Regions from separate parts of the Homo sapiens genome. Here region 1 is linked to region 2. The links come from fine-mapping of genetic effects on gene expression. A gene starts in region 2. The other region holds a variant in brackets. All regions are shown on one strand. Distances are from middle to middle.

What was found. PIP is the estimated chance that this variant, and not a neighbour inherited with it, causes the effect.
Region 1: its variant is the best candidate, but not a certain one, in a credible set for the expression of TMEM178B in aorta (GTEx, PIP 0.72).

Annotation. Positions count from the first base shown.
Region 1 is chr7:141,394,984-141,397,884 of GRCh38, forward strand. The region is part of intron 2 of TMEM178B (transmembrane protein 178B); the gene reads left to right. Among named protein-coding and RNA genes, the nearest start is that of AGK-DT, 150 kb to the right of the region's middle. The variant G/T (reference allele first, on the strand shown) is at 1,415.
Region 2 is chr7:141,072,539-141,075,439 of GRCh38, forward strand. TMEM178B (transmembrane protein 178B) reads left to right here and starts at 1,526. Exons shown (of 4, transcript NM_001195278.2): 1 at 1,526-2,154. The coding sequence starts at 1,773.

The DNA.
Region 1 (2,901 bases), 320 kb after region 2:
ATCTCACAGCTTCTCTTTGTCTACCCTCAGTACCCTGCCGCCTCTTCACCTGCAATGTGACCCTCTCACTCCTGTTTCCAATTGCCTTGTCCAGACACTGGGCAGTCCTCCACTGCTGACCCCTGGACACCTACTTGTTTTTATCTAATCATCCTGATTCTAGTCCCTTAGTATCCATAGAAATTTGGCTGCAAATATACTCCAGGAGAATCTACAGAAGGAATCCACAGAAGTGTAGAGCAGTTACTAAGAATTTCCAAACCTGGGCAATATGGTGAAACCCCATCTCTACAAAAAATACAAAAAAATTATCCACACTTGGTGATGAGTGCCTGTAGTCCCAGCCACTTGGGAGGCTGAGGCAGGAAGACCACTTGAGCCCAGGAGGTTGAGGCTGCAGGGAGCTGGGATCATGCCACTGCACTCCAGCCCAAGCGACATAGGGAGACCCTGTCTCAAAAACAAAATCAAAAAGAATTTCACCTCACAAGTAGATAGCATTGCTCAGTTTCCAGAGTTTCCTTGTTTTGGATCTCCTCAGAAGCTCAGAGGAGGAGCAGAGCTGGTTGGTTACTCTCTTCTTAGGACAAGGAAGCTGCAGCCTAGTGACATCAGAGGTCTCCCCAAGGCCTCCCTGCCAGTCTTCAGTGGTTCCAGAACCCGAGGTGATGGCGTCTGGCTCTGTCCTCACTCCACCACACTCTGCTCCCCCTCAGTCAATGGCAAATCAGCACTGTATATTCATGTGCTTATTTATACACATATGGATTTCTATATCAGGGGAATGGGAGAGAAGGATGGGCATGGGGGTTGGGAATGGGTTGGAACCAGAGAGCTATAATTCATCCTTTCTCCCACACAAACCACTGAAATACCACATATAATAAACAGCGTCACCCACAAAATGCCATGATTATACAGCGTTGCTTCATATTCAGGAGGAGAGGGAGGGGGCGGCACTAATTAACAGGTGGATTTGGGAAATTTACAACATACTATTACTGGTAATAGAATTATCTTCACCCTTAGTCATTCAAGGAGATACGGGGATCCTCCCAGCTCTGCATCTGGCCATGCCCTGAGAGAGAGAGTGATGCAAGGGGCTTGGGGGTGCTCACCAGCTCTCTCAGAGAGGGGAGGTGGGGAGCCAGGCAACAGCTCAGGGTTGGGGGTGGCCATGCCATCACAGCAGGGAAAGAGTGGCATTGTCAGGCCAGCACGCCTCACCTGTTGGGCATCCCAAGTTGTTCCCAGTCTTCTTGCGTGCCTCCCCTCCCAGGAGTTTGCTGCCCAAAATCCAAAGTAAGAAGAGTAAGAATCTGTTTCAACATGTTAAAAGAGGCAAATACCCTACCACTTTCCCATCGCCCATGCCTACTCCCACCTGCCACTCGCCTGCCTTTTTCCCAAAGGC[G/T]CCCCATACTTACTCTGCTGTGCCGCAGGGGTCCCTGGTTCTGCGGCATTTGCCGCCTTGAAGGTCTTTGAGAGCCAGAATGACCTTCAGGGCTCAACGGGTCTGGGCCTCTCATACTGCAGAGTGGAAAACAGAGCCTCAGAAAGATGAGGCGACAGCGCTGGGACTAGAAAAGTTTCAACCCACGCTTGGGCTGACCACTGCCTTTCTTCCTCCCATCATAATATCTGCATCTGTTCACAGGCTAGAGGCTGCTCCATATGTGGCCTCAAAGAAGAGAAAAATGGGATAAGGTTTAAGGAACAAGACACAGACAGTGGGCACAGTGACCCATCTTAGCAGTCTGTTAGATGTCCACATGAGCCCAGAGAGAGGATAAAGAAGGTCAGCATTGCAGAGTGGAAATGAGAGACAAAGTGATAATGGAGCTGGTAAAAAACACACTTCAACAGTCGCTGAGGGTTGGGGGTTGTTGAAATCTCACCATCAATTCTGTATGGGGACAATAGCTCTCCAAGACATTTGTGATTATTGTCATTCATTCAGGAGAGAAAAAGAGAGCCAACAGGACAAAATGTCATCAAAATTGAGCTTGGTTTTTTGTCCCATGAGCATTGTTGAGGAGGGAAACGAGATGTGGGAATAGTGTCACTATTACTGCCATCATCACCGTAAGAACACCATGGGGTCAGCTCACGTTCATTGAAGGTTGAGGGCTGCACAGAAGATGAACTTCAGTTGGTGCCTGAAGTAATGAGATCGTGGAATTTTCTGCCCAAAATCATAGTGATTAACTGTTTCATCCAGCTTCTTTCCCCCAGAAATGGTACAGTGAGAGAGGAAAAATAAAAACCAATTTAAGTAAGCAGAGCCTTGAGAGACAAGAAAAGGTTCTTCTCTTGAGTAATTTTTGGACTTCCTTTAACATGGGAATCCTGAGGCCATTTGTGCTGTGAAGATCCCTCTGTTGGCAAATCAGGTCAGGAGTAACGTCACTTCCCTGAGTCAGACCTCTCCAGCAAGCCCTGAGACGGACGGACCTTACCCAGAGCCACCAGCCTCCAACTTAGAATGAGCCATGGTCTGGATTTTCTCCATAGTAGGTGACTTGGAACTTGGAACACATTTTCTGATAGGCATCATGCTATGAATGGCAGACAGGTTCTCCAGCCAGTGAGTAAATACCCGTCAGCCCATTTGTAACTGAGCTGGGAGTTAGGAGCCCTGGATTCTGGTTTCAGCTCTGTCACTAGCTACCTATGTGATATGAGCAAATCCTTTAGTTACTGCCCCTGATTTTCTCACCCCAAGTCTGATTATTTCTCTCTATTGGCTAATATAGAATTTAATTGCCATTAGGAATACTTTCATAGGAAGCTATATTCCAATTCCTCATGTGTAATGACAAGAATGCATCTCTTCGCCCACCCGAGGCAGAGGCAAGGAAGTTCTGCCCCCACTGTCCCCAGCAGCCCAGAGCCTGGCTG
Region 2 (2,901 bases):
AAAATAAGAGATGAGGCTCACGTTGCACGGATGACATCACTAGCTTTTGGCTGCGCGCTCGGTGTTCTCGTCTGTGGGTTTTAGCCAAGGCTGCAGCTACCCGCGCCGGACGAGAGAGCGCGGCAGCAGCTTCCTCCGGCGCCCGCACCCGGGCAATGCGATTTCCCCAGTCCCCTGGGCGCAGCCTGGGCTCTCGCGCCTCCCGGGCACCAGCCGAGCCTGCGAGGCCTCGGAGCCGCCGCGGCTAGAGGAGGAGGCGACGAGGGGAAGCCGAGTGACCCAGCCTCCCTCCCCCACCCTCTCCCCATTCATCTCGGCGACCACCGCGCGCCGGGAGCCGGATCGTGGGACGCCGAGGCCAGGACGGGATTCTCTGCACGCTGTCGAGTGAGCCGGCATCTCGGCGCCCGGGTGGGCTGCGAAGAAAATGGTGCAATCTGAGAGCGACTGAGCCCAGCTGGGCAGAGCAGACGGGGTGCCAGAGTGCCAAGGGCTCAGGTGCCTGGAGAAAGGGGCGGATTGTTTGGAGGGGCCGGGACCGGGGTTTTCTTCGGTGCCTGCGGCATTTTCTTTGCACCTGGGCGGCAGGCTCCCGGGGCTCCCGGGTGCCAGATGAAGTGAGGCGGAGGCGTCGCGGGAGAGCCGGGTCCGGAGGCGGTCGGGTGGACACTCCAGGCAGAAGACGGCGCTGGGAAGAGCTGCGTGACGCTCGGGGGCTGGCGGCTGGGCCGGCAGCGCGCCGTGGCGGCGTGACCTGTCCATGGTGTTGAAGGCGCGGTGGGCCGAGCCCCTAGCGCCGCGCGCAGTGAGCGCTGCCTGGTGCACCCTCCGCCGCGCAGCCCGCCCCTCGCGTCCGCCAGCAGCCGCCCAGTCTCCGCAGATCCCAGGCCGGGTCTCGTCCGGTAACGCCGCCCGGGTGAACACGCTGTCGGCCCGAGGGGCCGCCTGAATGGCGATGCCAGAGGCAGGGCACCGGGGAGCTCGCGGGGAAAGGTCGGCCGAGAGCGTGCGTCCGCGGGGAGTGCGCCTCTGAGCGCAGCACGCGGGTCAGAAGGAGCAACCGACCTGCTGGTGACCAGAGAACGGAGATTTTAAGAGGACCCGACCCAAAGAGGAAGAACATTTCTGGGTGCGCGCCCCAGGTCTTTGCTTGCAGACGGGGAGGGGGAGAGGCTCTGAGCCAGAGACCCAGGAGGGACTCCGAGAAGCCGGCCCCAGCACCTGGAGGTTTCTTTCGCCCGCCGGCCGCATCCGGGGCGTTCTACTTCACCCGGTGGTCCAGTGGCGCCTCCTGACAGCACCCCCCGTCCCCCTCAGAGAGACAGGCGAGTTCTGTCCCGTCACCATCCTGCACAAAGAAGCCCCACCGCAGCCGAGGACACTTGGCATTTAGTTTCCGGCCCGAGGGCAGCGGCGCCCGAAGCCGGGCTGGGAGCCGAGGCGGCTGCTTCGGGGCAGTCGCTTCCTGCGGGGCGGGGAGGGGGCGGGAGGCGGCCGCGCTGGGTTCGCCGCCGCCGGAGGCTGCACCTGCCTCAGAGGATGCCCAGGAGCCCGCGGGAGCCTCTCCGGATCAGAACTTTTTAGGCCGCCCGCCCCCATCCCCGCAGTCCCCGGGCCGTGCTCCGGTAGGCGGGGGCCGAGGGGGCGCCGCGGCGCGAGTCCCTCTCCTGCCCCCTCCCCCAGCTCGGCCGCCCGCCGCTTTGTTCCGGGTGCGGCGAGGGAAGGCGAGGCTGCGGCGGATCATGCCCATGGTGTAGCCGCCAAGCGGAGGCATGGCTGCCGGAAGGTTACTGCTCTACACTGGCCTCTCGCTAGCGCTCTGCGCCCTCGGCATGCTGGCCGTGGCCATCTGCTCGGACCACTGGTACGAGACGGACGCCAGGAAGCACAGGGACAGGTGCAAGGCCTTCAACACCCGCCGGGTCGACCCCGGCTTCATTTACAACAATAACAACAACTTGCCGCTCCGGGCGAGCCGCTCGCGCCTGGACCGCTGGGAGGGCAAACTCCTCCGGGCCCGGAATCGCCGGCAGCTGTTCGCCATGAGCCCCGCGGACGAGTGCAGCCGGCAGTACAACTCCACCAACATGGGCCTCTGGAGGAAGTGCCACCGGCAGGGCTTCGACCCCGAGATCGCCGCCCTCATTCGGAAAGGTAAGCGCCGGGCGCAAGGCGTGGCGCTGCGGAGAGCCCGGCGCCTTTAGGCCCCGCAGCCCCTCGCGTCTCCTTCCCAGGCCACAGGCTATCAGGTCTCTGGGTTCCAGGCGGTCCGGTTATCCAGGCCTGGCTGAGCCTCGGGGCCAGGACTTGCCTCCCAATAGCTGTTAATGAAGCTTGGTGCAGGCTTAACTCTCTCCCCTGCCTCTCCTTTCGCGCGTCTCTGTCGGGATTCGAGTGGAACCTCATGGTCCAGGGTTCTTATCCAGGATAATGCTTCATCAGCCTCTGAGAAGAAGGGAATCTGGAACGTTGTTTGTGCTCTTAAAGGAAGCCCTTTAGGAGTCATGTGTCAGGGGTAGACAGGTTCCTAATTTTTGTTGAACTGATTTAATCAAGGAAAATTGGGGGAAACATTTCACAGAGAAGGCCTTATTCATACCAGAAACGTTTGCTGAGCGCTATACTATACCAGATATGGTGTAGGCACTGGTCATATAAACATCAATAAATCACAGCCCCTGTCCTGTAAGCAGCTCCAAGCCAGCTGACCAGCAGCATCATATCACAATTCTTTATGTCTCCTTCTGAAACAGTGGTTGACTGTAGTGACTTCTGTGCATCGAATATCAACAAGGTCTAATAAGTAAAAAAAAAATAGTTCTTTCAGTAACATCAAAGTGGGCATGTCAGAGAAAAAAAATAAGATTTTCAGAAAATGTATATAAAAATTCCCAAAGTGTA